Linked DNA regions of Homo sapiens: all the other regions are reported to be linked to region 3. The links are microRNA targets in miRTarBase. Many come from high-throughput screens and were not tested one by one. Region 3 holds a microRNA gene; each other region holds the end of a gene's coding sequence.
The links. The annotated mature microRNA hsa-miR-6837-3p reads CCUUCACUGUGACUCUGCUGCAG and lies in region 3 at 2,586-2,608, opposite strand. An mRNA with a match to its seed (bases 2 to 7 or 8) in the 3' UTR can be bound and repressed. Matches are read on the target gene's strand: a 7mer-m8 pairs with bases 2 to 8, a 7mer-A1 pairs with bases 2 to 7 and ends in A, and an 8mer does both.

Region 1 (5,073 bases), not on the chromosome of region 3:
TCATTCAGAATAAGCTGATGGTGGGGTTATTCTGATTCACTCATTCTGGTAACATGACTGGTAGTATATACATTTTTAATACATTTTTACTATAACCAACCTAGTTAAGGGTTTGCAACCCGGCCGGCTGACCCATACAAGCCCGTTAGCATTGTGCCAGACCCCAAATTAAATGAAAGTAAGTAATTACTTTAGGAATAAGATTTTGATTTCAGTATCTTATTTTTCTGAAACATTTTATATTAATTGCTTTGTATGTGTTTTCAATGTTTTTATTACTCTTTAGACTCACAACGACCCAGAAAGCATTCTCAAAGATGATGAATGTACTCAAACAGAACTTCAATTAATTGCTGAAGCATTTTGCAGTGCCCTAGAATCTGTTGTTGGCTCTTTAGAACATGATGGAGGTGAAATTCTCACTGACATGAAGTATGGACACCTTTGGTCAGTTCAGGCAGATTCTCCCTGTGTTGCTAACTGGCCAGATTTGCTTTCACAGTGTGGCTGTGGATTATACAATAGCCAGGAAGAACTCAACTGGTCTTTCTTAAGAAGCACACGTCGTCCATTTGTGCCACAAAGCTGCCTTCCACATGAAGCTGTGGGCTCAGCCAGCAACCTGACCTTGGACTGTTTGACTGCAAAGCTTAGTGGCCTACAGGTGGCTGTAGAGACAGCCAATTTGATTTTGGATCTTTCATATGTTATTGAAGATAAAAACTAAGAGAATAGCATGTTCGTATTACAAGAGAAACAAATAAACTAGTCTGTTGGCAATTGAGAAAAATTGTGAGTGTATTTGTTTTCTCCCAAAGCCCTGTTCTACATATTTGGACAAATGACTCATAAAATTATAGATACACTTATTTAGGAAAAAAGGTGATTCGTGAATGGAAATGCCATGAAACAATAAAAATATGAAGCATTATTTATTTAAAAATATTATAGTTATCTTAGGGATTCTATACTGGCTGCTGTACATTGTTCTAAATTTTTGTTATGTTGGCATCATTTTGAGAGCAAACAAATAAAAAAGACTCCTAATCCATGCTCTAGTTTGGATATACATATTTTAGATATTTTCCAGTTAGCAGTAATTACATATGCTTAAAGTATAAAACTAGATCTCAAAGTGTCACAAAACATTCAGTATATATTGCTCAATCAAAAGAAGTATTCAAACTGCACATTTAGTAAAATTTCACTTTTCTCCATGCCCTTTATCTCAAGCTATATTCTTCAGTGGTTAGGTAATTGAGTAGAACCTGGTTTGCCTGCAATTTGTAGTTTATATCACAACTCCACATTTTTGTTATTTTGGGGAAATGTTTGCTTTTGGGGGGAAAAAGTAGATTTATATAGTAACCAAGGCTAAAGCAACATTGTAATGTCTTCATTTTTAAAGTGGGAAGAAGGACTGGTTTGTTTTACACTGGGGTTTCTCAACTTTGGCATTATTGACATTCTGAGCCCCATAATTCTTTGTTGTACGGAGGCTGCCCTGTGCATTACAGCTTACTGAGCAGCATCCCTGGCCTCTGCACACTAGATGCCAGTAGCACCCTCCTGTTGTGACAACCAAAAATGTTTCCAGACATTGCCAAATGTCCCCCGAAGAGCAAAACTGTTGTTGGTTGAGAACCATAGACTGATAGAAAAAGGAAGGACAATAAGGAGTATTCTAGCAGGACTTCAGAAAGCAGCATAAAGGGAAGGGGAAGTTATTTCTCTAGTCAATAGTATGAAAAAGAAAGTAGAAAATCTCCCATGTTCAAAGTAGAGACATTATGTTTCACCAAGGGATGTAGTTTGAATTTTATGCAAATATAAGATGTATTGATAAATTGAAGAAGAAATATAGAAGGCAGCCACATGAATAAGCATGGAGCTATAACAAATGTTGTATTAAACTTTAGGAAAATATTTTGGAAATTTTTGGGAAACAAACCAACCTAATAGTCAATGATCAGATCTATAGCCATGATAAAGAGAAATAGAATTGTTAAACAATTTCCTCTGATATTCTTGTAATCAAAAAGAATTTTTACTCTGAGCCAAAGGAAAAAACTAGCAATACAAGCAGCAATGCCATCCATATATGTTAGGTATCAGCCCCACCTGAAGTCTCATAAAATATTTATCAAAAGTTTTACTCCTTTTATTATTACAATCAAATAGAAGGGCAGTGTGGTAGGCAGCCTCTAAGGTGGCCCCACCTCCTAGTTTCAGACCTTGCATAATTTCCTCCCCTTGAGCATGGGCTAGACTTAGTGACTCCTTTATGTCTCCCATTTCCCAGCTTTGTGGACAGAATGTTATGGTGATGGTTATGGTTATGCCTTATCCATAATTTTATGCTGTGAGTAGAAGGCAGATAACTTTTCTCTAGTTTCATGGGTCTACAGATGGAAAGCAACTGTGTTCCAGGAACTGTACTTAAAGAACTACCTCCTGAGGAAGCCTGGGGTGATTCCAGTTATGATATCACCCTGACTTGATTCCAATTATGAGATTCTGAACTTTGAGCTGATGTTGTAATGCAAAAGTGAAACTTTTGAGGATCTGAGGAGTAGGGGGGACGTATTTTGCATGTGGTAGGCAGCCTCTAAGATGGTTCCCAATAATCTCACTTCCTGGTGGTTCACTCTCTGGGTGTAGGTGGGACCTAATGACTAGCTTCTAATGAATAGAATACAGCAGAAGGGACAGGATATCACTTCTGATATTTGGTGGTAAAAAGATGAGTTTGTCTCTTGATGCCTTCTCTCTCAATGGAAGCCAGCTGTCATGTTGGGAACTGCCCCCTGGGGAGGCCCACATAGCAAGGGTTGAGGGAGGCTTCTAGCCAACAGCTCAAAAGGAACTGAATCGTACCAATAACCACAAGAGTGAATTTGGAAGCAGGTTCTCCCCAGTGGAACCTTGAGTTGAGTATAGCCCTACCACTGGAGCCACACGAGAGACCCTGATGCAAAAAAGCCAGCTAAGCTACTCCCAGGTTGGTTCCTAACCCACAAAATCTGTGAGATAATAAATGTTGTTTTAAGTCAAATTTGGGATGTACTTTCTTATACAGCAATAGCTATCTAATAAAGGCAGGAGGAAAAGCTTATTTGTAATAAATTATTTACTGAAAACTTGGTCACATAAATGGAAAAAAGCATTCTTGATGCCATGCCTTTGCATTTTTATCATCACCCCAACCTAAAAGAAGGGTTCTTTATCACATGTGTTTACAATGTGTCACATAGGAGTTGGGTATTGTCCTGGTTCTCTTTGCCCTTATCCTGCATTTTTTCAAGTTCCTCCAAGAAGGGGTGACACAGCGAACCTCTCCAATTGATCTTATAGATTAGGGGCTTCTACTTTTCACGATAGCCACTTTTTAAATTCTATCATTTTTAGCTTTGCCATACAATTTGATTACATTCCTTAGTGAAACATCAATGCTCTTATTTTGAATATATCACAAATTCGTTAAAATATATTTACAAATACCTCTATGTTTCCTAAAGTTATAATAATCCCTAGCAGAAAACACTGGAAATAGAAAAAAAGAGAAAAAAAACCTTCCTCTATAGTTCAAGAAAATTAGCGTTCAAACTTAGATGATAAAACATGAAATGAAAATTCTTGATGAAAATAATTTTAGAGGAGTTCCTTTTGGCAGAAATAAATGATAAGTAAAAATAGCAACTAAGGTAAGCCTCAGGCAGTGTTTTGTGACTTAAAGTAAGATTGAGGTCTGAATATTGCATTATGAAGTACCTCAGGAGAGAGAATGGGAAACCGTGATCGCTGTGGAAAAGGAAAGGGAGAGTGTGAAGAAGAAAATGAAGTCGGTGACAGCTGCTCAATAATTTCGTGGGACTCTCAGGACATGTAACATTAAACGTTATTCAACCATAGGAGTCCAACAGGATTATCATCTTATTAATCAAAAGGCATTAGGATTTTAGCAGCAAGGAAGAAAGTGGAGAGCTACAGCAAATAAAGGAAACTTTTAATCAAATACTTATTTGGTCTTATAGATATCCTACCCTTTAATTCTTCCATTTGTACCATATTAGAGAGTCTTTATATGTTAGACATTGTAAGTCAACTGTTAGACTGAAGCACTTTATGTAAGTGAAGTATTTTACACAAGATATTTAAACTATATCACATTAATATCTTTTATTATAGGTATCCTTGAACTCATTTGGTTTGTATTATCAAAGCTACTTAGGCATTTACATTGTAGACAAGAAATTTGAAGTAACCATAAATCAGCCATTGTACTATGTATTTTCATATTGTTGTTCATATTGTTGAGCAGTTCTTTGGATAACTTTAAAATAAAATAATGTTGTTTACCATCACATACATTATGCAGGTTATTTAAAATTATCATGTAAAAAATCAATGCAGGCCTTGACAAAACATACAATTAGTTAGGTTATTCCTTCCTGATAATCTTTGGGGAATAGTCAAAGAGACTAAACATCTCCTACAAGGCCCTGTTTCAGCTGTCTAAATAAAGCTATCTCTTAATCTGAAGGAAAAGTCAATTTTGAATATCTGATATCTTTATAATTTTTTTCATGTAGCTAAGTGCTTCCATTTAGTAACTATTGTATCCCATAATGGAAGTTTTTGCCAATCATCTACAGAATTTGAATTTAGATGCACCTAAACCCAATGTTAGCCTACTTTTGGATTATAAGTAGATTTATATGCTGCTTTACTAAGAATATAGTAATATTCATGAAAGAGAATGCAATCCCTGAAAACTATTCCTAAATGTAAGTGAAGCTGTTTGTTGGAGAGACGATTAGTCTTGGCGCACTAAAATCCATAGAATACTATATTACCTGTAATGAAGTGTGAATTTAGAGGGAAATAAAACAGCTTGACAATCTCCTATTAAAAATTCTCTTTGAGAAAATACTTATAATAAACATCTTATTTTAGCCATCTTGATTTTGTTTCTAGTATTGTGGTTTGATTTTGGGAAGTATTAATTGAGCCCTTTCTGTTTGCAGATAGGATAGTCAAGCGTATTTGGCGGTGAGAAGAGGAAAAAACAAC
Region 2 (5,073 bases), not on the chromosome of region 3:
ATAGATCTTATTGAGCTCATTTTACAGGTAAGTAAGCTGCCTTTCTTAATCATCTGTCCTTTATTGGTACAGGGAAGAGGCAGATGCTCTCTATGAAGCTCTGAAGAATCTTACACCATATGTGGCTATTGAGGACAAAGACATGCAGCAAAAAGAACAGCAGTTTAGGGAGTGGTTTTTGAAAGAGTTTCCTCAAATCAGATGGAAGATTCAGGAGTCCATAGAAAGGCTTCGTGTCATTGCAAATGAGATTGAAAAGGTCCACAGAGGCTGCGTCATCGCCAATGTGGTGTCTGGCTCCACTGGCATCCTGTCTGTCATTGGCGTTATGTTGGCACCATTTACAGCAGGGCTGAGCCTGAGCATTACTGCAGCTGGGGTAGGGCTGGGAATAGCATCTGCCACGGCTGGGATCGCCTCCAGCATCGTGGAGAACACATACACAAGGTCAGCAGAACTCACAGCCAGCAGGCTGACTGCAACCAGCACTGACCAATTGGAGGCATTAAGGGACATTCTGCGTGACATCACACCCAATGTGCTTTCTTTTGCACTTGATTTTGACGAAGCCACAAAAATGATTGCGAATGATGTCCATACACTCAGGAGATCTAAAGCCACTGTTGGACGCCCTTTGATTGCTTGGCGATATGTACCTATAAATGTTGTTGAGACACTGAGAACACGTGGGGCCCCCACCCGGATAGTGAGAAAAGTAGCCCGGAACCTGGGCAAGGCCACTTCAGGTGTCCTTGTTGTGCTGGATGTAGTCAACCTTGTGCAAGACTCACTGGACTTGCACAAGGGGGCAAAATCCGAGTCTGCTGAGTCGCTGAGGCAGTGGGCTCAGGAGCTGGAGGAGAATCTCAATGAGCTCACCCATATCCATCAGAGTCTAAAAGCAGGCTAGGCCCAATTGTTGCGGGAAGTCAGGGACCCCAAACGGAGGGACTGGCTGAAGCCATGGCAGAAGAACGTGGATTGTGAAGATTTCATGGACATTTATTAGTTCCCCAAATTAATACTTTTATAATTTCCTATGCCTGTCTTTACCGCAATCTCTAAACACAAATTGTGAAGATTTCATGGACACTGATCACTTCCCCAATCAATACCCTTGTGATTTCTTATGCCTGTCTTTACTTTAATCTCCTAATCCTGTCAGCTGAGGAGGATGTATGTCACCTCAGGACCATGTGATAATTGCGTTAACTGCACAAATTGTAGAGCATGTGTGTTTGAACAATATGAAATCTGGGCACCTTGAAAAAAGAACAGGATAACAGCAATTGTTCAGGGAATAAGAGAGATAACCTTAAACTCTGACCAACAGTGAGCCTGGTGGAACAGAGTCATATTTCTCTTCTTTCAAAAGCAAATGGGAGAAATATCGCTGAATTCTTTTTCTCAGCAAGGAACATCCCTGAGAAAGAGAATGCACCCCTGAGGGTGGGTCTATAAATGGCCTCCTTGGGTGTGGCCATCTTCTATGGTCGAGACTGTAGGGATGAAATAAACCCCAGTCTCCCATAGCGCTCCCAGGCTTATTAGGAAGAGGAAATTCCCGCCTAATAAATTTTGGTCAGACCGGTTGCTCTCAAAACCCTGTCTCCTGATAAGATGTTATCAATGACAATGGTGCCCGAAACCTCATTAGCAATTTTAATTTCTCCCCGGTCCTGTGTTCCTGTGATCTCGCCCTGCCTCCACTTGCCTTGTGATATTCTATTACCTTGTGAAGTAGGTGATCTTTGTGACCCACACCCACACCCTATTCATACACTCCCTCCCCTTTTGAAAGTCCCTAATAAAAACTTGCTGGTTTTGCGGCTTGTGAGGCATCACGGAACCTACCGATGTGTGATGTCTCCCCTGGACACCTAGCTTTAAAATTTCTCTCTTTTGTACTCTGTGCCTTTATTTCTCAAACCGGCCAACACTTAGGGAAAATAGAAAAGAACCTACGTGACCATCGGGGCAGGTTCCCCGATACCCAATGACCCCAGAGCAGTGCAGCCACCAGGGAAGGTGAGCCAGACACAGGCCGGGACAAAACGCAGACATTTTTTAGGGGAATAAAGAGGGCGAGGTAAAGTTTATGGAACTCAGTGTTAGGAACTTTGGCATCTGTAGCTGAGCACAGCAGGGGAGGGGTTACTCAAGATGGCAAGTGCGCCAAGGAGAAGGCAGAAATGCTGGGGCCTGGAATAAGGGAGGAGAGGGGACTGGAGAGTGTGGGGAATGGAAAGAAGCAGTTTACTCTAGACTAAAGAGTATATTGGGGGAGGAAGAGAGGGAGGCACGTAGGAACAAGCAATGAGAAGACCAGGAAAAGAAAGAGCTGAAAATGGAGAAAGCCACAGTTAGAACTGTTGGATACAGGAGAAGAAACAGCGGCTCCACTAAAGACCCGCCCCCCGGTTGGATGTCCTTCCAAGAATGGAATCCTTCCCTGGTGATGGTCTCTCACCCTGTCTTACCAGCATCCACTCTCCCTTGTCCTCCCGGGGGTGTATCTGAGTCAGCCAGTGGCTTCTTGATGATGGTGGTGGTGGTTGTAGTGTGACAGGTCCCCTTTAGGTTATTTAAGGGTGCATGTCCCCTGCTTGAACCCTGAAGGCCGGGTAATGAGCCATTTCCATGGTGCCCAGCTGAGGACCAGGTGTCTCTGAGAATCCAAACATCCTGGAGAGTATCTGAGAACCAACCAAGTAAAAGTCTCGTTGCTCATATATAGTAGACAAAGAGCCAGAAAATTAACTGAAAAGCAGTTTAGACATTGGGGGAGGCTGGATCTCTCGAGCTGTCTTGCTGAGTGCCCTGTGTGTAAGTCCTAATAAACTTAGCTACTCGCCAAGCTGGACTTGTTTAAGTCATTCCTTGGTCTCATGGCTCCTTTCCCGCTTTGAGGGCAAGTTCCTGTCTCAAGTTTTTGTCCTAACAGTGGTAAAGGTGATTGTGGTGATGTCAGCAGACAGCAAGAGGACTTGACATGGGGTCGGCCCTGCTTGGGGCCAGCGTACACTGAGGGACCGATGACATTTCAATGAAACTCCAAATGCTATATTGGAAACGTTGATGTGTGAAGAAAAATAAAAGCAAAACCAGATGCCAGGAACAAGTCAAGGAATGTTGTGGTGCATTGAGGAGATGAACCAGCCTGCAGTCAAGAGACCCCATCTCTCTGAGCCTCAGTTTCCTCATCAGCTGGGAAAGGGGGGCTGGACAAGATGATATCTCACATCCACCTGGCCCTCTTCTCTTGTGTTCTAGAGACTTGTGTTCAAGCAACACTGACTGATGACTGAGCCTTTGTGTGTTGATATATGGGCTCCCCTAGGCTCTGGGTGCCTGACTTCTCTTCCTCATGATTCTTCTTCCAGGCTCTCAGGGAGCTAGGCCTCCATGGCCCCTTCTGCTTACTCTCCAGACTGCTCATTTCTCTGCGAACCCAGTGCCCAGTGGCCCCTGAAGCACTCAGGGAAAACTTGTAGACTTCTGGCTTGGCTCTAGTACAGGCGTGGTCCTGATCTAGCAGCCAGGGCCCAGGATTGACATGGGTCACATGAGGCTAAGATCAGAAGGGCCTGTATGTAGGTTGAAGGAAAATCCATGAGACATAGAGGGACAGAGAGAGACAGCCAGACAGCAAATACCCTCATCCAGTCTGCAAACACCCTCATCCAGTCAGCCTTCTCACTTCGCCCAGACTCCTGCAAAAGCTTCCAAAATGGTCTTCGCTGATACACAGCCCTTGCCGCTAGGCCAGCTCTTCCTCCACATTGGGCCAAGTTGACCCATAAAAACACAGATTTCATCAAACACCGGCTTCCATGTCTTCAATGGCTTCCTATTACTCTTAGCACAAAAGCCCAGAGCCTTCATGCTGTCTAATGTAGGCTGCTGTGGCCTGAGTTCCCCTGAAGGGAGAGCCCTAGGCAAGGCTCCCAGGCAGAGGATTTGTTTGGGAAGTGATTCTAGGAGCAGGACTGGGGTACTGGGAGGAGTGACACAGAGAAGGACAGAAGGCTGATGCCGGGAGAAATTCTTGATAGGGTCACCCATGTGGGCGACTGGAGACCTCCTGAGGAGTCTTCAAGGAGCGTCTTCAGAATGTTCCTCTACAGGGAGGAGAGAGGGAGGCCTGTAACCACTGCTCCTGTCCCCCATGGCCTTGCCCCAGTGGACATTAATTATCTGTATTTCCATGCATAGAATATAGAACTGCTGGGCGCCTCAGCTGGAGCCCAGAGCAGGGGCAAGAGATACAGAATGCACAAAATCACCCCAGAACCTCTCCTAAGTCACTCGTAAAGTGCACCCAGGGCCTACTTAGTCCTTTTTTATGTAGCATCCTGCAGAACACTTGCCTCAGTCCCTGTAACTCTCCATCAGCCAAGGCTTCCCTGACCTTCAGTTGATTCATCTATTTCTTCCTGAAGAAGTCAACAGAGCAACGGCCACCGACTTGCCTAACGCCAGAACATTGTGTTTCATTTGTCTGTCAATTGTTCATCAATTCCTGGATAATTCCCATTCTTTTCATACATTTCACTTAAGCTTTGAATGTTTCTGGCACTGAGTAATTTACTTCTTCAGTGATCCAGCCAGCATTTGCCCTGACACTTAGAGTTGAAATGCCATCAGGCTACCTGCATTTGATGCAATTCCACTGTACTGCTAGTATTGTTTAAAAATTTTTCAATTGCAAGCAACAGAAACAGAAACTATCTGTCTTAAACAAAATAGAAGATTCATTGGATGAAAACTAGAGCAGGTCAGAGGATGGAAGGAAGAACAAAATCTACAGAATTTGGAAGGACAGGAGCAGACCATTACCAACATCAGGAATATATGGTTTGCCCTTTCAGGGCTCTGCCTGCACCTGGCTTAGCTCCACACACTTTGATTCCTAGTGTCTCTGATTAAAGTTTCACATTCTCAAATGAGAGGATAGCTTGGGTCAGTGACTGTTCTTGAACCAATCAGTCAGGCTATGGTATCAGGAACAGCGATGAGTAACAGAGACACAAACCCTAATGGGAAGCCTCTGGCCAAACAGTCACCTGAATT
Region 3 (5,073 bases):
TCCAGACCAGCCTGGCCAACACAGGGAAACACCATCTCTACTAAAAATAGAAAACTTAGCCGGGCATGGTGGCAGGCACCTGTAATCCCAACTACTCAGGAGGCTGAGGCAGGAAAATCACTTGAACCTGGGAGGCAGAGGTTGCAGTGAGCCGAGATCGTGCCACTGCGTTCCAGCCTGGGTGACAGAGTGAGACTGTCTCAAAACAAACAAACAAACAAAAAACAAAACAATTAAAAAAAACTCTGATAAAAGAATGCCATGCATGTTTTCTACAAAAAGTAAGCCAATGATTTCTTCATAAGAAGCCAGACCCATGACGTCATTCACTGTTGCTATACAGGTTGAGCATCCCTTACCTAAAATTCCAAAATCTGAACTGCTCCAATGAACATTTCCTTTAAGCATTATGTCAGCACTCAAAAAATCTCAGATTCTGGGCTGGGCGTGGTGGTTCACGCCTGTAATCCTAGCACTTTGGGAGGCCAAGGCGGGCAAATCACGAGGTCAGGAGATCGAGACCATCCTGGCTAACACAGTGAAACCCCGTCTCTACTAAAAATACAAAAAATTAGCTGGGCGTGGTGGCGGGTGCCTGCAGTCCCAGCTAATCGGGAGGCTGAGGCAGAAGAATGGTGTGAACCCGGGAGGCGGAGCTTGCAGTGAGCCAAGATCACGCCACTGCACTCCAGCCTGGGCAACGGAGCGAGACTCAGTCTCAAAAAAAAAAAAAAAAAATTCAGATTCTGGAGAATTTCGGATTTTGGATGCTGAACTGAAAACATTCCCAAATCTGAAAAAATCCAAAACATTTCTGGTCCTAAGCATTTCAGATAAAGGATACTCAAACCTGTATATCGATAAGCTGGGAATTCTCTTATCAGCTCCTAGATGGAAACTGAGGTATAGCTGAAGAAATGTTGGCAGAACGAGAAATCAAAATTCTGAGTCTCCTTTGCCAGAGAAATGCAAAAAGTTACCTGACAAGTGACCAACAAATGCTTTTGTTACAAATAGTTTTTAAAATTTAAAAAGGTTCTATTATAGGACTGACATAACTCCATGTAGAGGGGGCTGGAAAGGAATGCATCAAAAGGGCACATGCGTGCTAAGATGGTGGGCACTCTCCCCTTCCTCCAAATCCTGACGGTATTACTAAACTGTTTAGAGGGATCATAAAACAAAACAGAACCAGGGCCCACCCTTCTCACGGCACCAGCTCCAGCATAGTCCTTTATCCTGCCCCACTGAGGCAGGCCTGTAGGTGGCCCTGGCAACATCCTGACCTCCCATGCACTCACTGACCGAGAGTGAAGCAGCCTCTGGTCATGCCCTCAAAGGCAGGCAGAGAGCATTAGCTATGAGCACACTCCCAACTCCAGTTCTGATTCCCACTTGCTCGCACCCAGGAACCTGCGAGACCTCAAGCCTGTGAGGCCTGTTCCCAGTGAAGCGGGCCTCACCTGGCCTTACCTTCAGGAAGCTGGCCATGGTGCTGACGTGGCTGGCACAGGCTCCCTTCCGCACATCGTTCACGCCCTCGCCTGTCTGCAACACAAGGATGCCCAGGTTGACCCAGGCCTCCCCCAAAGCCACTTCCCTTCCCTGGGGACCCAACATCTACCCTGTGTCCCAGAAAAGAGAAAACTGCAACCCCCAAAGCAGAACCTATTCTTCTGACTGCATCACATGGGTGAGGTAAGTTCCCATGCCTCCAAGGGGCTCATGGATTCTCCCTGGGCAGGATGGCTACCGGCTTTCGCTGTGGGGGCATTTCATGAATTTTCTTTTTTTTTTTTTTTTTGGAGATGGAGTCTTGCTCTGTGGCCCAGGCTGGAGTACAGTGGCGCAATCTTGGCTCACTGCAACTTCTGCCTCCTGGGTTCAAGCAATTCTCTTGCCTCAGCCTCCTGAGTAGCTGGGACTACAGGTGCACGCTGCCATGCCCAGCTAATTTTTTGTATTTTAGTAGAGATGGGGTTTCACCATGTTGCCCAGGCTGGTCTCAAACTCCTGAGCTCAGGCAGTCCACCCACCTCGGCCTCCCAAAGTTCTAGGATGACAGGTGTGAGCCACCCCACCCAGCCTTCAAGAGTTTTCTTGATCCCCACCAAGGGATCAAGGAGGCCCTGTCCCTGTACTCCCAGGCTCCTAAACACTCCCTCAGGCTCTCTACTCCATCAGAACAACCACCCTCAAGAGCACGGAGCAAGGACTCCCTGTGACTGCTTTTAATCCATTTTGCAGGAAGAACTCTAGGCTTGGAAGGTGAATTCTGCATAGCAAAGCCACAGTTATTCTTTGGGCCACAATGAATCTGTCAACTATTCTGCTCATTCACCAGCTCAGAGCTGTTCTATTGATCTACTAAGTCATGCCAGTAAAACACTTTGTTCCTGAAGTCAAGTCAAAACAGGAAAGAAGACAATGGGGTTTCCTGGGTCACACCTAGATGAAACAGGCTCCACATACCCAGTTGATGAGGACAAATTTGGGCAGTCCAGAGTTGGGGTCCTTCACTCTGCAGAAGGCGTACATCACCTTCCCGCTGTTGAGCTCCTCCACCATCTCCTCCAGGCCACCCTCTGCAGCAGAGTCACAGTGAAGGTCAGGGGTGGCCCTGACATTCCCTGCTGGCCCTGGTCCCACCATGAAGGGAGGCCGAGCTGCTTCTAAACCAGGGCTTCTCACCTCTACCTGTATCAGAATCTTTCTAGGGGTATGTTTAAAATCAGAGTCCTGGGCACCACCCTCACTAAACTGATTGATGAGAGCTGGGTGGGACCTAGAAGTCTGCGATTCTGACAAGTACCTCAGGTAATTTTTTTTACCCACACTCGTTTAAAAACCACTTCTCTAAACCCAGAGGTAATTCTGGAAATAAAAACAGGGTCATTTCCACGGCAAACCAGCCACCAGACTTCCAAATGGAGGATGGCTACGTCAAAATTTTATTGTTGCCACAACGTTGCAAAAGGGCCCGGAATAGCAGGGCCTGTAGAGTCACCACTGCCTGCACCTGTGTCTGCTCAAGTTCCAGGGCCACCCAGACGGCCAGACCAGATTGAACATCCTGCAGTGGCGTAACTGGCTCAGTCCTCAGACTCCAGAAGAGAGGGTGATGGGGACAGGGGGAGCACAGGAGTGGGCAGCTCTAAACAATTCTCCCTGACACTGAGGCTTAGCCCTCACAAACTTTTCCAGGTTATAAGGAGGAAGAGCTGATCAGGTATTTCATCTACAGGGCTCCGTATGAGTGGAGGCAGTCATGAGCCCCACTCTGGGGACAGCAAATTGTTGCATTTGTGGCAGAGCCCTGTCCTGTGCCACTGGGGATGACAGGAAACTCTCAAGTTGTTGATCTCTGCAACTCCCAGTCACCTGCCACACCACATGTCTACTGTTCAATGGCAATCCTTCTAGAAAGGGGACACCTCCCAGAAAGATTGTGAAAGGAAGGGGCTTTCTACCAACAACAGACATCAAACCGTGGAGAACCACTCCGAGTGTTCATTGAACAATGAAGCCATGTCCAGCTCAGGACAGAGGGAGGGGTCAGGCAACTTCTGGAGGAGGAGCAGTCACGGGTGTCAGCTGAGGGGCCCACAGGTCACACTCTGACGAAGCCTACCCTGACAACCTCTGCTCTGTGCTGGCCAAGAGCCTGTCCTTCCTGTAGAGACCTCCAGAGCCTCCCCCGTGACTATCTGCAGTGATACTGCCTCTCCCAGTGAGGATGGGGCCCCTGCAAGCACTCGGCACAAGACCAGGGCAGGACAAAGGGAGAAGAAGATATGTCTGTGGACTTTCTTTCCACCAGCACCAGTTCTGGGACTGGTGAGCTTCCCACCGCAGCTCCCAACGCAGGCTGCCCACAAGCTGGAGAGGCCTGTTTCCCTCTCAGCTCTCCCCAAGTAGACAAAGAGAAAGCACTCCCCTGCACCCAGAGGGAAGGAGAACCAAGGAGGAATGTTTTCACTTACACATATCTGAAACCTAAGGCCTGCCAGAAGTGGCCAGTGAGCACTGGAAGCCCCATGTGGCTCAGTGGACCAAGACAGCTGAGTGCGCTGACCCCTCGTCGTCACCCTCCTACCTCCTGGTGTCCCTGAGTCCATTTGGAGTCATACTCACCCCCTGTGCCAGCCACGCGGATGTCATTGCTGTTGCCTTCATAGGTAAAGAGAGCCCTGAAACGAAACACAAGTGAGCTCTGTAGCCAGCACCTTGGGTTCCATCTCTCCTCACCGTATCCACCATGACTTTCCACTACATCCCAAAGAGCTTGGGCTGACAGTAACACTGTGGGTGGGCACAGGCCCGTTCTCACTTTGCTCTGACCCACTAGGCAGGTTCTCAGTAGGCAACTGTGCAGCCTTCTCAGCTCTGCAGCTGGGAGGACACTGGCCTGACTTACCATGGGGTGGGGGTTGTGAGGGACAAAGCCATGGAGATGGGAGCACACATCTACTATGAGGAAAACATGAGCTGTGGAGTTTCCCAATGACTGCTATACATTCATGTGTCAAATACTCACCTGGCCACTAGGTATATGGATTTGAAGAGACAAAACATATCTACATATTCCTGAACCCAGAGCACCCAAAAGGAGAAGCAAGTCGGAGAAATACACACACTGGGCCCCTTGGAAGGCTGCCCACCACTCCTGTGCACGTCTGCCCTGGCTCCAGTGAAGCCTGGTGGGTAGGGCAGCAGGTCCTTCCAGGCTTGAGACTCTTTGGTAAACACAGACTACCACAGGTTGTGTTTATCAGAAACCACAAAGGAATGACACGACATGAAATCACACAGTTAAAGCCATGAACCTGCCAAGCCCCTCACGGACAGGTACCCATGAGCAAGTTTTCTATCTAGCAGAGCCTTATCTCTCCATGGGTGACATGGGGCCATGGCTTTCTTTTCCTGAAAGATTAATTATTCATAAGAACTTTGGGCTGGGCGCAGTGGCTCACGCCTGTAATCCCAGCACTCTGGGAGGCCGAGGCGGGCAGATGTGGATCACGAGGTCAGGAGATCGAGACCATTCTGGCTAACACGGTGAAATCCCATCTC
Region 4 (5,065 bases), not on the chromosome of region 3:
TCTTTTAAACCTAAACCACTCAGAGAAGTTTTTCACAGGTTATCCTCTAATTGATAATTATTCCTATAGAGGATTTTACCAAAAAACCCATATTTCTTACCAGGAGTATCCTTTCAAGGTGTTCCCTCCATACTGCAGTGGGTTGGGTTATATAATGTCCAGAGATTTGGTGCCAAGGATCTATGAAATGATGGGTCACGTAAAACCCATCAAGTTTGAAGATGTTTATGTCGGGATCTGTTTGAATTTATTAAAAGTGAACATTCATATTCCAGAAGACACAAATCTTTTCTTTCTATATAGAATCCATTTGGATGTCTGTCAACTGAGACGTGTGATTGCAGCCCATGGCTTTTCTTCCAAGGAGATCATCACTTTTTGGCAGGTCATGCTAAGGAACACCACATGCCATTATTAACTTCACATTCTACAAAAAGCCTAGAAGGACAGGATACTTTGTGGAAAGTGTTAAATAAAGTAGGTACTGTGGAAAATTCATGGGGAGGTCAGTGTGCTGGCTTACACTGAACTGAAACTCATGAAAAACCCAGACTGGAGACTGGAGGGTTACACTTGTGATTTATTAGTCAGGCCCTTCAAAGATGATATGTGGAGGAATTAAATATAAAGGAATTGGAGGTTTTTGCTAAAGAAATTAATAGGACCAAACAATTTGGACATGTCATTCTGTAGACTAGAATTTCTTAAAAGGGTGTTACTGAGTTATAAGCTCACTAGGCTGTAAAAACAAAACAATGTAGAGTTTTATTTATTGAACAATGTAGTCACTTGAAGGTTTTGTGTATATCTTATGTGGATTACCAATTTAAAAATATATGTAGTTCTGTGTCAAAAAACTTCTTCACTGAAGTTATACTGAACAAAATTTTACCTGTTTTTGGTCATTTATAAAGTACTTCAAGATGTTGCAGTATTTCACAGTTATTATTATTTAAAATTACTTCAACTTTGTGTTTTTAAATGTTTTGACGATTTCAATACAAGATAAAAAGGATAGTGAATCATTCTTTACATGCAAACATTTTCCAGTTACTTAACTGATCAGTTTATTATTGATACATCACTCCATTAATGTAAAGTCATAGGTCATTATTGCATATCAGTAATCTCTTGGACTTTGTTAAATATTTTACTGTGGTAATATAGAGAAGAATTAAAGCAAGAAAATCTGAAGTATTGTCTTGTTTTTAAAAAATACAGTTCCTAGTGTTTTTAGAAGTCACTTAATTTGTCTCATTTTTCCACCTGGAAATTAGGAATAATGTAGAATGCAAGGCAGTAATTTCCTTTTGGAAAGGACTCTGAAGGCAGAAAAGAAGGGAGAGAACCTCATGGGCAGAATATTATAAAAAGAGTGTCATATTCCAGCATTTGAATTGGAAAGAGAAGAGTGAAGATCCAAGTTGCATTATTAATCTGCCCTGTGTTTTTTCCTTTTAACAATCAGTTTGAGCTGCTGCTGTTATGAGTTTCTCATCAAGATGAAAGCCCTAATATGTAAAGTCAAATCCGATTTAAATTTTGTGCTTTTATAGAAAGAAATTTCTTCATAGACGTGGTGATATATCATTTGTTGGACCTGCTAATAGTAGGTCAAAGGGGAGCACTCCTTGCCCCCTGTTCCTGGGTTTATGCAGTTTTCTTTTTAGAGTTTATATAGGGCAAGTGGTTCTTTTTCTCTGAATTACAGGATGGAAAAAGGTCATATCCTTTGTCAGGAAATATAAACTTGAAAGTATGTAGTCAGCTCTTGTAATACTCATATTTATGATTGTCCTATATGAAAAACAACTTCAGTTAAAACTATAATGTGTGATTCTGTATAACAAGGTGATGTCTGTTTCCCAGGGCTCAGACCTAATCCAGTTATAATAAAATCAATTAAATGAAATATTCTATAGAATCGATCTATGCCCTTGTTAATCTCCATCCATATAGGAGTCACGTTCTTTAAGACAGATGGTGGTAGTTATTTTTGTGGCATGGTTAGATTTGACTGGTTTTGCAGAAGATTACAGTTATGTACTGCATAATGACATATACAATAGTGGTCCCATAAAATTATAATGGAGCAGAAAATCTATTGCCTCATGATGTTTTAGCCGTTTTAATGTCATAGCCTAGTGCATTACTCACGTGTCTGTGGAGATGCTGGTGTAAACAAACCTACTACACTGCCAGTTGTATAAAAGTACAGCACATTCAGTTATGTACAGTATGTAATACTGATAATGACAATAAATGACACCGGTTTGTGTATTTACTTTTTATAATTAGAGTGTTCTATTCCTACTTATTAAAAAAATGTTTAATAGAGCCTTGGGCAGGTCCTTCAGGAGGTATTCCAGAAGAAAGCATTGTTATCATAGGAGATGACAGCTCCATTCATGCTATTTCTCCTGAAGACCTTCCAGTGAGACAAGATGTGGTGATAGAAGACAGTGATACTGATGATCCTGACCCTGTGGGCCTAGGCTAATGTGTGTGTTTGTGTCTTAAGTTTTTAACAAAGTTTAAAAAGTAGAAAAATAAAGTTTAAAATAGGAAAAAACTTACAGAATAAGGATATAAAGATATTTTTGTGCAGTTTTACAAGATGTTTGTGTTTTAAATTTAAGCTAAGTGTCAAAAAACTTTGACAAAAGAGTCAAAGTTTGAAAGTTTGTAAAGTTAAGTTACGGTGAGTTAAGGTTAATTACTGAAGAAAGAAAATTGTTAAATGAATTTAGTGTGGCCTACTTTAAATGTGCCATGTTTGTAAAGTCTACAGTAGTGCACAGTAATGTTTGAGGCCTTCACATTCACCCACCACTCACTTAGTGACTCACACAGAGCAACTTCCACCCCTGCAAGCTCTATTAATGGTAAGTGCCCTCCCTATACAGGTGTACTATTTTTTATCTTTTATACTGTTTGGTTTTTTTTACTGTGCTTTTTCTATTTTAGATACACCAGTACCATTGTGTGACAGTTTCCAACAGTAAGTATTCAGTACAGTAACATTCTGTACAGGTTTATAGCCTAGAAGCGATAGGCTCTACCATGTAGCCTAGGTGTATAGTAGGCTATGCCATCTACGTTTGTGTAAGTACACTCTAATGTTTGCACAACGACAAAATCACCTATTTCTCAGAATGTATCTCCATTGCTAAGTGCCACATTTCTGTATATCGATGTTTGGGAAGCTAACTCAAAACATTTCTAGAGAGAACTTTTAACATAAAAAATAATTCCCTTTCACTTTTAGAAAAGACCAAAAAACAAAAAAAAAACAAACAAGTTTCAGAAGATTGTTTCTTTTGAACTGAAGATTGGTGCCTAAAAGAACCTACAAAGTTAAATGATTAGGAAAACATTAAGAGATTGGGTCATTATATTTTTTGTTTTCAACTATATTAAGCTTTCAGGAAGTAAATATTAGCTGTGTTATTAAAATCATGACCTGGTGTTTAACCAAATCAGCAGCTTTAAAAATTTTAACTCATATAACAACGTTTAATACTGGAGCTTATCCTTGGGCTGATTTGGTCCCATCTGCCTTAGCCCTGCCATCCCCATAGTTTCACACACCCTCTGCCTCACTTGCTTTCCTTGTCTGCAGGTGTTGAGTTTGTGACTTTTAGCACATTAGTTAGCTTTGCTAAGGGTCACAAATGCTACAGTAACGCCCAAATCTCAGACTTGATGACAACCAATGTTTTCACTCAGTTGCATGGCAGTGGTTGGCTGCAACCCTGCTCTATGTCTTTTTCATTCCAGGATCCAGGCTGATGGGCAGCCCGTTTGGAACATGCTGTTCTTATAGAAGGAAATTAAAAAGCTGGTGGAAGCACAGTGGCATATATTAATACATCCACTGGCTGAGATGAATCCCTTGCCAAGCCCAGTGTCACTGAGGTGGGGAAGTATATTTCTCTTGCAGGAAGTAACTGCAAGTGATGTTGCAGCATGCAGGAATGTATTGTTCCACAGAATGGGGAATGAAAAACTGAGTGCAGTCGTACTGTAAGCTGCCACACTCAGTGTCTGAAAGGGAGAGGGAGCCTTCAGACAATGCCAGACAACTCTGCAACAGACCCCAATTTAGGCCCTGTAAACCAGAAATGTAAGAAATAATTTTTGCCTAATGCTGCCAACTTTGGGGATGCTTTCTTACGATAATTAAAACATTTCTCACCAAGGAAATTTCCCATTGTCTGTGGCCCCGGGGCCAAGACTTCTCTCCTCACATCTGGCCACTCCTCTATACATGCCGGGCCTTACCCCTGCTTGAGGTTATCAACGAGTAATTTCCAAAACTCCTTTCCACTTAGCCCTCTTTCTGTTTCACTTTCTCCTTTCAGACCATGTGGGAAGCAAGGCAGGGGTGAATGCTGCTTAACATTTCTCCCCCCCCACACTCCCCCCAAAAAAACTCATTCAAGGCATTTCCCAGATAAAAGGAAATCAACTTCTCTAAAGATAAATTTTGTCATTCTTTTAAAAGGTTGCAGCAGCTGCTGTGATGGTTCTAAATGCCACTCTTCCCTCTCTTGCAACATATGTACAAACTACAGAAACAGGATGAAAATATAACAAAATTTGAACAGAAAATGCCTCTCAAAAGATTTCTTCCTACTTTAAAAGTACCTTTTATTACATTCTCAACAATGAGGATAAATCATTTTTATAACACAGATGTTTTAACAAATACATTAACAAATTTAGGTAAAGGTAAAAAGTGGCATCAAAATGTTATGAGCAAAGGCTGCTGCGGTGCAGGCCAAATGCTGTGTTTGCCGGTAAGCCCCCAGCCTCACGTGCCCACCATCCCGCTTTCTTCTGTGCAGGCAGGGGCTGCCTCCCATCCTCAGTCACTTTTGTTGTTTAAGACGGTCTCGCTCTGTCGCTCAGGCTGGAATACAGTGGCACGATCATAGCTTTACTACAGCCTCGAGCTTTTGGGTCCAAGTGATCCACCTCAGCACCCCCCAAGTATCTGGGACTACAGGCGTGTGCCACCACACCTGGCTAATTATTCAAAAACTTTGTAGAGATGGGGCTT
Region 5 (5,073 bases), not on the chromosome of region 3:
GGCCATCCACAGGCGCATACACACCGGCGAGAAGCCCTACCCCTGTCCTGACTGCGGCCGCCGCTTCACCTATTCTTCCCTCCTCCTCAGTCACCGGCGCATTCACTCCGACAGCCGGCCCTTCCCCTGCGTGGAGTGTGGGAAAGGCTTCAAGCGCAAGACCGCCCTGGAAGCCCATCGGTGGATCCACCGCTCCTGCAGCGAGAGGCGCGCGTGGCAGCAGGCCGTGGTGGGGCGTTCAGAGCCCATCCCTGTTTTGGGAGGCAAGGATCCCCCAGTTCACTTCCGGCACTTTCCAGATATATTTCAAGAGTGTGGGTGATGGCGTTCACACAAACTGGTCAGCGTTTCCCTGGAGAGGAAGAGGCAAGGTTTGTGTATTTGGGGGATAAGGAAAGGAAGTGGGCGTTTGAGGAAAACAAAGTTCTGCCTTAGGTAAAAAGCAGAGGTAGGGGCACAGAGGGCTGTGGGGAGGAGGCAGGAATCTGAAAAGGTGCCTGGGGGTTGACCCCATTTTCTGAAGCTCCAGCACACAGGGCCCCGTGTTCACGTCCCATCCTTCACTGAAAACCATTCACCTAACTGGCTTTTCCTTCATGATTGTTCTCTCCCTTGTAGCTCTCTGCTTTTTGGCCTGTATCTCTCCTACTCCTCTGAGATGGGGTCCCCTACATTCCAGTGCCTATTAAAGGAGCCTGCACCCACTCTGGACCCCCCAGAATAGAGGGGATACCTCAGGCCTGTCCCTCGGCTGGTGGGGGGGGCGGAGCTCATCCCAGGATTCTTTTCTTTTTTTTGAGATGGAGTCATGCTCTGTCGCCCAGGCTGGAGTGCAGTGGCGTGATCTCGGCTCACTGCAACCTCTGCCTCCTGGGTTCAAGCCATTCTCTGCCTCAGCCTTCCCATTAGCTGGGATTACAGGCATGCGCCACCAGGCCCAGCTAATTTTTGTGCTGTTAGTAGAGACGGGGTTCCACCATCTTGGCCAGGCTGGTCTTGAATTCCTGACCTCGTGATCCACCCGCCTCGGCGTCTCAAAGTGCTGGGATTACAAGCGTGAGCCACCGACCCCTGCCGAGGATTCTGCCTTTTACCAATGCAGGTGAAACATCTGGCAAGGAGACACCTGGAGTGTAGGTGTTCCTTGGTCTTGAAGACCTAGAGGTGGCCATAGAGAGGACAGTGGCCTCAGGTGGGGAACTCCCCCCCCACTCTCATTCTGCAAGTGCACAAACTATCAAACATAGCGGACTCTGGAACTGGGCCAACTCTTCACTGTATGCATTAGTGATTGCAGTGTTTTTTTCTTCTTCAGATATTTGCATGTTCCCTGGATTTTGTATTTTTTGATAAAGATATATTCTTGGGCCACAGTAGCTGGAGATATAATGCCGGAGGATTCTTTTTTTTTTTTTTTTTTTTGAGACAGAGTCTGTCTCTATTGCCTGGGCTGGAGTGCAGTGGCCCAAGCTACGCTCACTGCAAGCTCCACCTCCTGGGTTCACACCATTCTCCTGCTTCAGTCTCCCGAGTAGCTGGAATTACAAGCACCCGCCACCACGCCCAACTAATATTTTGTATTTTTAGTAGAGACGGGGGTTTCACCGTGTTAGCCAGGATGGTCTCGATCTCCTGACTTCGTGATCCTCCCGCCTCGGCCTCCCAAAGTGCTGGGATTACAGGCGTGAGCCACTGCACCCAGCCTCTTTTTTTTTTTGAGATGGAGTTTCGCTCTTGTTGCCCAGGCTAGAGTGCAATGGCATGATCTTGGCTCACTGCAACCTCCGCCTCCTAGGTTCAAGCGATTCTCCTGCCCCAGCCTCTTGAGTAGCTGGGATTACAGGCACCCACGACCATGCCTGGCTAATTGCATTTTTACTAGAGACAGGTTTCACCATGTTGGCCAGGCTGGTCTCCAATTCCTGACCTCAGGTGATCCACCCGACTTGGCCTCCCAAAGTTCTGGGATTACATTTTTTTTTTAAAGAAAGAATAAATTAATTGTGATTAAAGTTGAAATCAAGGCATAGTCTTTCCAGTCTAATTTTTACTGTAATGCTTGTATGTCAACAGTTATGAAGGCCAGGCGCGGTGGCTCACGCCTGTAATCCTAGCAGTTTGGGAGGCTGAGGAGGGTGGATCACTTAAGGTCAAGAGTTCAAGACCAGCCTGGCCAATATGGTGAAACCCCATCTCTACTAAAAATACCAAAAAAAAAAAAAAAAACGGCCAGGCACGTTGGCTCACACCTGTAATCCCAGCACTTTGGGAAGCCGAGGCGGGCAGATCACGAGGTCAGAAGATCGAGACCATCCTGGCTAACATGGTGAAACCCCGTCTGTACTAAAAATACAAAAAAATTAGCCAGGAGTGGTGGCAGGTGCCTGTAGTCCCAGCTACTTGGGAGGCTGAGGCAGGAGAATGGCGTGAACCCGGGAGGCGGAGCTTGCAGTGAGCCGAGACTGCGCCACTGCACTCCAGCCTGGGTGACAGAGCGAGACTCCGTCTCAAAAAAAAAAAAAAAAAATTAGCCAGGCCTGGTGGCGTGCACCTGTAATCCCAGCTTCTTGGGAGGCTGAGGCAGAAGAATGGCTTGAACCCAGGAGGTGGAGGTTGCAGTGAGCCAACATAGCGCCACTGCACTCCAGCCTGGGCAACAGAGCAAGACTCTATCTCAAAAAAAAAAAAAAAAAAAGGCCTGGTGTGGTGGCTCACGCCTGTAATCCCAGCACTTTGGGAGGCTGAGGTGGGTGGATCACGAGGTCAGGAGATCAAGACCATCCTGGCTCACACAGTGAAACCCCATCTCTACTAAAAATACAAAAAATTATCCGGGCATGGTGGCGGGCGTCTGTAGTCCCAGCTACTGGGGAGGCTGAGGCAGGAGAATGGCATGAACCCGGGAGGCGGAGCTTGCAGTGAGCTGAGATCGCGCCACTGCACTCCAGCCTGGGCGACAAAGTGAGACTCCAGTCTCAAAAAACAAAACAAAACAAAAAACAACAGTTAAGAGAGTTCTTTCTGGCCCATTTAGATCTGCTAGCCCTACTTTTGAAGAGGAAACTTTTGAAGGAATGAACAAAAGAGGTAGGTGGGACTAAGCATTTCTGCATTCCAGGACTGGTGGTCAGTGACTCAAATATCTCTTTGAAAAGACTGCTTCTTTGAATCCTTGGGTTCCAAGATAATTAATGGGAACTGGTGCCGGGCACGGTGGCTCACACCTGTGATCCCAGCACTGTGGGAGGCTGAGGCTGGTTAATCACTTGAGGTCAGGAGTTTGAGACCAGCTGGGCAATATAGTGAAACCCCATCTCTACCAAAAAATTAGCCAGGCGTGGTGGCACATGCCTGTAGTCCCAGCTACTCAGGAGGCTAAGGCAAGAGGATCACTTGAGCCTGGGAGACAGAGGTTGCAGTAAGCTGAGATGGCTCCATTGCACTCCAGCCTGGGCTACAAAGCAGGACTCTGTCTCAAAACAAAAACAGATACAAAAACTGGGAACGGGGTGTTATCTTTACTTCACCACATAGCCTCTCCTGAATTGGTGGACCTGGATTCCTAGCTTGGCTCAGTCCCCACTGGCTGTGTGGCCTTTAGCATCACCTAGATTCTACAAATAACATTTTTCTCTATTTGTTTTACACATGTCAATCTGCCTATCCATCCCTCTATCCATTCATTTATCCATTTTATTAATGTATTTCAAAGTAAGTTGCAGACATCATTACATTTCACTTCTAAACACTTCAGCATACAGCTGAGTTTTATGCAAGAAACTTAAGCTCTCAGCTGGGTACAGTGGCTCACACCTGTAATCCCAGCACTTTGGGAGGCTGAGGCAGGAGGATTGCATGAGATTGGGAGTTTGAGACGAGCCTGGAAAACAGCAAGACCTCATTTCTACTAAAAATTTTAAAAATTAGCCGAGCATGGTGGGGGAGGGTGAAGAAGGAGGATAGCTTGAGCCCAGGAGTTTGAGGCTATAGTGAGCTATGATGGCGCCACTTCAGTCTGAGTAACAGCAAGACACTATTAAAAAAAAAAAAGAGCCAGGCGCAGTGGCTCACACCTGTAATCCCAGCACTTTGGTAGGCCAAGGTGGGCAGATCACCTGAGGTCAGGAGTTTGAGACCAGCCTGACGAACATGGAGAAACCCTGTCTCTACTAAAAAAAAAGAAATACAAAATTAGCCAGGCATGGTGGCACATGCCTGTAATCACAGCTACTCGGGAGGCTGAGGCAGGAGAATCGTTTGACCCCAGGAGGCGGAGGTTGCAGTGAGCCAAGATCGTGCCATTGCACTCCAGCCTGGGCAACAAGAGTGGAACTCTGTTTCAAAAAAGAAAGAAAGAAATTCAGCTCCCACTTAAAGTTCAGTTGTACTCTGTTATTGACAAGTAAAGTCGATTGAAGCCCAGTCATCTCCTGTATGTTGTGTGACTTCTCATAATTATCTGATCAAGAGTCTTGAAGAAACATTTACAATTTGATGGGCAATAAAATAATTTGAAAGCAAGAGCATTTTGTTGTTCTTGTTATTTCTTGAGACAGGGTCTCACTATAGCCTAGGCTGGAATGCAGTGGCACAGTCACGGCTCACTGCAGCCTCGACCTCCTGGGCTCAGGTGTTTCTCGTTCTCATCTCAGCCTCTTGAGTAACTGGGACTACAGGCATATGCCACTATGCCCAGCTAATTTTTGTATTTTTTGTACAGATGGGGTTTTGCCCAGGCTGGTCTTGAACTCATGGGCTCAAGTGATCTGTCTATCTGAGCCTCCCAAAGTGGTAGGATTACAGGTGTTAGCCACTGTGCCCGGCCAATTTTTGTATTTTTATAATGAGTGGCAGGAAAAACAACTCATCAGCTACACGGAACAGTTTTAGTCTTACTTGAAAGTTTGTTTCAGGCCTGGCGCTATGGCTCATACCTGTAATCCCAGCACTTTGGGAGGCCGAGGACGGTGGATCACTTGAAGCCAGGAGTTTGAGACCAGCCTGGCCAACATGGCAAAACCCCATCTCTACTAAAAATACAAAAATTAGCAGGTTGTGCTGTTTTCAGCTACT
Region 6 (5,073 bases), not on the chromosome of region 3:
CCTGGGTTCAAGCGATTCTCCTGCCTCAGCCTCCCGAGTAGCTGGGATTACAGGCGTGAGCCACCATGCCCAGCTAATTTTGTATTTTTACTAAAGACGGGGTTTCTCCATGTTGGTCAGGCTGGTCTTAACTCCTGACCTCAAATGATCCGCCCGCCTCGGCCTCCCAAAGTGCTGGGATTACAGGCGTGAGCTGCCGCACCTGGCCACAACAACTCATATTTTAAAAGATTGAGCTGATCCACATAAAGTGCTCAGAAAGGAACTTGTCATCCTCTTTTACGGCTGAAGAAACTTATGTGTCTTGTAAGTTGCAAGCCAGGACTCAAACCCTGCTCTTGGGCCAACTCTGGGGCTTAACCAGACACATTCCATTTTTGCCTTGTACCAAATTCCTATTCATCTAGCAAAGCCTTAGCCACAATGCCCCTCTGTTGGGCAGCCTTGTGTGATGACCCAGGGAAGAGATTGCTGGACCCCCTTAGGGTTCCTGTATCTGACAGTATTGTGGTTCTGGCTGCCTACAAGCATAGAACCCCTATTCCTGTCCAAGGGATTCCCAGGGACCAGGGAAGGAGCCCTACCGTGCCTAGTAGCTCACTCCGCATCTCGCTGGTGTACCGCGCCCGTGACTGCAGATGCACCGTCTTTGTGGCGGGCACTCGCTCTCTGGCTGTGGTTGGCACACGGCCAGGGGCCAGGAACTGGTTGGCCAGTGCTTTCTCTGAGGAGGAGGTCTGCAGAAATGTGGGAAGATAAGTCACTGGAGGGGCAGGTCCTGGGGACCAAAGTGAGCGGTGATGGGGGCTGAGGGGGCAGGGGCACCCCTTCTCACCAGCTTCTCGGCTTGCAGCATCCCCTTCAGAAAATCCACCTTCCAGGAATATTCATTGATCACCTCAGAGGCCGGTTTGCTGGAAGGCAGGAAGAAGAAAAACAAAACCTGTCCATGGTCCCCAGCTCAGGGAAGGGTCCCAGCTGGGATAGCGGTACTGGGATGTCCAGTAGCACAGCCACGTGCTGATGTGAAAGCCCTGAGGCTGCCTGCACTCACCTCGCGTGGACCTTCAGGGCCTGCAACATGTCCTCTAGGGCTCCCACGTACTGGGGAGGAAAAGTGGATTGTCACCCGGGGGTCTTTCCCATGTCCTGATCATGGGAGTCGGGGGGGCGGGGCCGACAAATGGGAGGGGTCAAGCGTAAAGGAGGCGGGGCCAGTGGGGGAGGGGCGGAGTCCCAGGGACGGGGGCGGAAGCTACAGGTGGACGTGGCGGGACTGACCGGAAAGGGCGCTGCCCGAGAGGCTACTGGGGCCGGGGAGTCGGGCCAGGTGGCTTCCAACCCTAGGAATCACCCCCCGGGAGTCGGGCTCTACGCGGCAGTGCGAGATCCCCTCACCTTCTCCAGGCGCCACTCGTCCGGGTCCCGTTTCTCCGCTGCCATCGCCTCGCAGCGGGATAGCAGCCGCACCAGGTTTAGCTCCAGCCTCGACGCCGCCATTATCGCCCGGCCCTACACCACCCCTTCCGCCGGCTCCATGTTAAGAGAGGGCGGAAGTGCCTTCAAGTGGCCTTCCGGGCGGATGTTTCCCCCGCGCTCGTTAGCTGGCCCATCTTTGTTTGGAGCGGAAGTAATATCTTGTTTTGAGACGGGGCGCTGGGCCGGGCGCGGTGGCTCAGGGCTGTAATGCCAGCATTTTAGGAGGCAGAGGTGGGAAAGGATTGCTTGAGGCCAGCCCGGGCAAGATAGCGCTACTCTATCTCTATTTTAAAAAAATAGGAGAGGCGCCACCCCATTCTTACTTAGGCGAATCACTTGCTTTTCCTCGAGAGCATGTTAACCCTTCGGGAATGATAGGACGACCGGGGTCTTCTGGTGTCAGACCCGCGTGCAGTGTGCCCTTTTGTTCTGTTTTGCCTGCTCAAAGTACCTCCCCGCACCCCACTCCTACCTGGATTCTTCCCAGTCGGAGCTATTTCACGTCCACACACCCTTCCCGATTTCTGTAGCCTGGGATTCAGGAATCCAAGGCTTCCCCCACCTCAGCAGGGCTCATCTGTATTGTGGTTATGGGTTTCCAGGTCACAGCTCCAGCTCTGATTCCATCCTCGGCCCTGGGAGAGTTTAACTTTTCTGGATCCGCTTCTTCCCCCGGGAAATGGACAGTGTGACAGTACCTGCCTCAAGGGGCACATGAGACAGCTCTGCCTGAGAGTGAGCAAGGTGGGGCTGGGTCCCCCCTAACGCCCAGACCCCCATGGAGAACCCCTTCCCAGCCCACCTCAGTACCTGGAAGCTGAGTACCCCTATGCCTTGCAGTGCCTCTCTTCTGGAGTGACAGGATGAGGGTGGGGGCTTCACAGGAACCAGGGCCTGGCATGCAGCCTTCATGTTTTCCCACACCTTAGGTCATCTGCACCTTGGTTACACCAGTGGGCCTGATGTCCTTGAAAAATATCATAGACGGGTAGGTGCGGTGGCTCACACCTGTAATCCCAGCACTTAGGGAGGCTGAGGCAGATGGATCACCTGAGGTCAGGAGTTTGAGACCAGCCTGGCCAACATGGTGAAACCCCGTCTCTACTAAAAATACAAAAATTAGCCGGGCGTGATGGTGGGTGCCTGTAATCCCAGCTACTTGGGAGACTGAGGCAGGAGAATCGCTTGAACCCAGGAGGTGGATGTTGCAGTGAGCCGAGATTGTGCCACTGCACTCCAGCTTGGGCAACAAAGCAAGACTCCGTCTCAAAAAAAAAAAAAAAAAAAGAAAATACCATGGAGGGCCAGGTGCGGTGGCTCACGCCTGTAATCCCAGCACTTTGGGAGGGTGAGGTGGATGGATCACTGGAGGTCAGGAGTTTGGAGAGCAGCCTGGCCAACATGGTGAAACCCTGTCTCTATCAAAAAACACAAAAATTAGCTGGGCTTGGTTGTGCGTGCCTGTAATCCCAGCTACTCGGGAGGCTGAGGCAGGAGAATCGCTTGAACCCGAGAGGTGGAGGCTGCAGTGGGCCGAGATCGCGCCACTGCACTCCAGCCTGGGTGACAGAGCGAGACCGTGTTTCAAGAAAAAAACCCACAACAAACAATGGAGACCAAACCCAGGGCCCATCAAAGGGGCCTCTAGAGGCTGGCAGGGCAGAGTCTAAATCCCAGCCATGCCCCTCCCAACTGTGTGGCCTTGGAGAAGCCCCTCAACCTCTGGCATGTGCTGTCTGAACTTGGGTTCTTCACGGTGCCCCAACCAATACCAGCCAGCCAGTTCCCACGACTCCCATCCGATGGCAGCCTGGGAGCCCATCTGTTCCTGTCCTGCTGGGCCCACCAGGAACTGGCCACCTCTGCTGGATGGGTGGCTGCTGCAGCTGACATTTAGGCTCCAGAGGCTGGGCACTGAATCAGGGAGGCCAGAGAGGGCTGCCAGGACAGCAGGCGCTCCTGGCCAAGTGAGGCTCTGCTGGGAGCTCCCTGTTTGGTGGAGGATCAAGACAGAACTTTGAGGACAGTGTTCCACCCATATTCTGCACCCTTCTTGGCTGAGGCCACAGGGCAGACCCCCACCCACCGGCCCTGTTCTTCCAAGCCCGATCCCATATGAGCAGGCGTCCCATGCACACACTTCTCAGGCACTTTTTATTTCATGCTGTGCGGGGGCCCCTTGTCCCAGATTTGTGGCCACGTGTCCAGGTGTCTGGGGGAGTGGGCCAAGCCTGAGAGAGGAGGGCCCTGCTCCAGAGATCCCCAGGTTGTCCCTGTTGACCTATAGGGAGGTCTGACTTCAGGCGTTGCCCTCCTGACCCGTGAGCAGTCCTGAGTCGCTGGCTCCTATTCTGTCACACGGGGTGGGTAGTGCCAAAAGCAGCCTCCTGCAGCCCTTGGCGTCCGGAAGAGTGACAGCCACATTCAAGTCTCCCTGGCACGTGAGGTCCATGGTGCCCCTGACTCATGTCCTGGCTCCAGCCAATAGCCCAGACCCCCATGGAAGGTTCCAGCATGTGCAAAAATGCACATTGGCCAGGTGGCTGCCCCCCGGAGACATGTGTCAGAGAGGCACGGGTCAGGTGACCCAAGTGTCCAAAACTCTCATGGAGGGTCCCAGCCCATTGGCCACCCCAAGCCAACCACAGCAGGGTCTGAGCCTCAGACGCGCAGTGGCCTAGTGGCTTCTGCTCTGACAGCTCACGTCCAGGTTATAAGGGAGACGGGCAGCGTTAATAGAAAACTTTGTACATACACATATAAAAAACCATTTGGTCTTCCATTAAGGCTGTTACAGTTTAAAGTTACGTAAACCACGTACAAAGAAACAGTTAAACGTACAAAAAGGGGAGTGGGGAGATGTGAGGCCGCAGGTGGAGATGTGGTGCTCCCCACAGGTGCGTCCATGATTTGGGGGCTGCGTGCGAGGGGGCCTGGCTCCAGCCGGCCTCTCCCTGCCTTGACTCTGCACTTGGGGCCGGTGCCCACCTCACGTCACTCTTGAGCTTTTGATTCTGGATCCTTCTCTGAGGGCCGAACACTAGCTCTGCAGCTCTGGCGCCCAGCTCCAGTGCAGGGGCCGTCCTCGGACATGCAGACTTTGTCAGCTGTGGCTCTCAGCCATTGGTCTGGCCCGAGGCGGGGGGCAGGCAGTACGTTGGGGGATCCGAGTACCTCCGCTTGGCCCCAGGTGGCTGGCCATCCTCTTCTAGGGGCTCCAGGGCGCCCTGCACTGGCAGGTCTGCCCCGGGCGTGATGTACACGGAATGTATCTGGTCCGGGCGGCGGGCAGGTGGCTCCCGGCGCCGCACTGGGGCAGCCGCCTCCCGGGCACCCGGTGCCCAGCGAGGCAGGTGGGAGGGCAGGCCTGGTGGGAGCTTGATGTTGGCCGTGGGCATGATGGGGGTCCGCCGGGGGGTCTTCACTCTGACCGTTACGAAGGACGACGGCCTTCGTCGTGGAGGGGCGGCCACGGTGGGGAGGGGGCTCGGGGTGGGCGCGCCGGGGCAAGGGAGAGCAGGCGCAGGGGGCCCTTTTGAGAGACAGATGGCAGGGTTACTGCAGCTTCAGGGCCGGCAGCCGGAGGACCCTCGC

Region 1: the mRNA of MKKS is a reported target of hsa-miR-6837-3p. Seed matches in the 3' UTR shown: 7mer-A1 at 3,825-3,831, 7mer-m8 at 4,131-4,137 and 7mer-m8 at 4,791-4,797.
Region 2: miRTarBase lists APOL4 as a target of hsa-miR-6837-3p. Seed matches in the 3' UTR shown: 7mer-A1 at 984-990 and 7mer-A1 at 1,075-1,081.
Region 4: miRTarBase lists B3GALNT1 as a target of hsa-miR-6837-3p. Seed matches in the 3' UTR shown: 8mer at 1,411-1,418.
Region 5: the mRNA of ZNF785 is a reported target of hsa-miR-6837-3p. The part of its 3' UTR that is shown has no 7-base or 8-base seed match.
Region 6: miRTarBase lists MYO9B as a target of hsa-miR-6837-3p. The part of its 3' UTR that is shown has no 7-base or 8-base seed match.

Annotation. Positions count from the first base shown.
Region 1 is chr20:10,400,901-10,405,973 of GRCh38, reverse strand. It overlaps MKKS (MKKS centrosomal shuttling protein), which reads left to right. Exons shown (of 6, transcript NM_170784.3): 6 at 287-4,965. The coding sequence ends at 727. Among named protein-coding and RNA genes, the nearest start is that of MKKS, 31 kb to the left of the region's middle.
Region 2 is chr22:36,186,912-36,191,984 of GRCh38, reverse strand. It overlaps APOL4 (apolipoprotein L4), which reads left to right. Exons shown (of 4, transcript NM_001386885.1): 4 at 73-2,857. The coding sequence ends at 910. Among named protein-coding and RNA genes, the nearest start is that of APOL4, 12 kb to the left of the region's middle. RefSeq lists an enhancer at 1,383-1,884.
Region 3 is chr7:44,049,342-44,054,414 of GRCh38, reverse strand. It overlaps MIR6837 (microRNA 6837), which reads right to left and starts at 2,649; the gene lies at 2,586-2,649. It overlaps DBNL (drebrin like), which reads right to left. Exons shown (of 13, transcript NM_001014436.3): 2 at 4,135-4,190; 3 at 2,473-2,585; 4 at 1,474-1,548.
Region 4 is chr3:161,081,112-161,086,176 of GRCh38, reverse strand. It overlaps B3GALNT1 (beta-1,3-N-acetylgalactosaminyltransferase 1 (Globoside blood group)), which reads left to right. Exons shown (of 5, transcript NM_003781.4): 5 at 1-2,294. The coding sequence ends at 418. Among named protein-coding and RNA genes, the nearest start is that of B3GALNT1, 22 kb to the left of the region's middle.
Region 5 is chr16:30,577,809-30,582,881 of GRCh38, reverse strand. It overlaps ZNF785 (zinc finger protein 785), which reads left to right. Exons shown (of 3, transcript NM_152458.7): 3 at 1-2,226. The coding sequence ends at 322. It also overlaps a transcript of ZNF688 not described here. Among named protein-coding and RNA genes, the nearest start is that of ZNF785, 5.4 kb to the left of the region's middle.
Region 6 is chr19:17,211,833-17,216,905 of GRCh38, reverse strand. It overlaps MYO9B (myosin IXB), which reads right to left. Exons shown (of 40, transcript NM_004145.4): 40 at 3,620-5,011. The coding sequence ends at 4,596. It overlaps USE1 (unconventional SNARE in the ER 1), which reads right to left and starts at 1,549. Exons shown (of 8, transcript NM_018467.4): 1 at 1,399-1,549; 2 at 1,055-1,104; 3 at 836-914; 4 at 585-737. The coding sequence starts at 1,500. RefSeq lists a silencer at 1,156-1,225 and enhancers at 1,246-1,565, 1,329-1,909.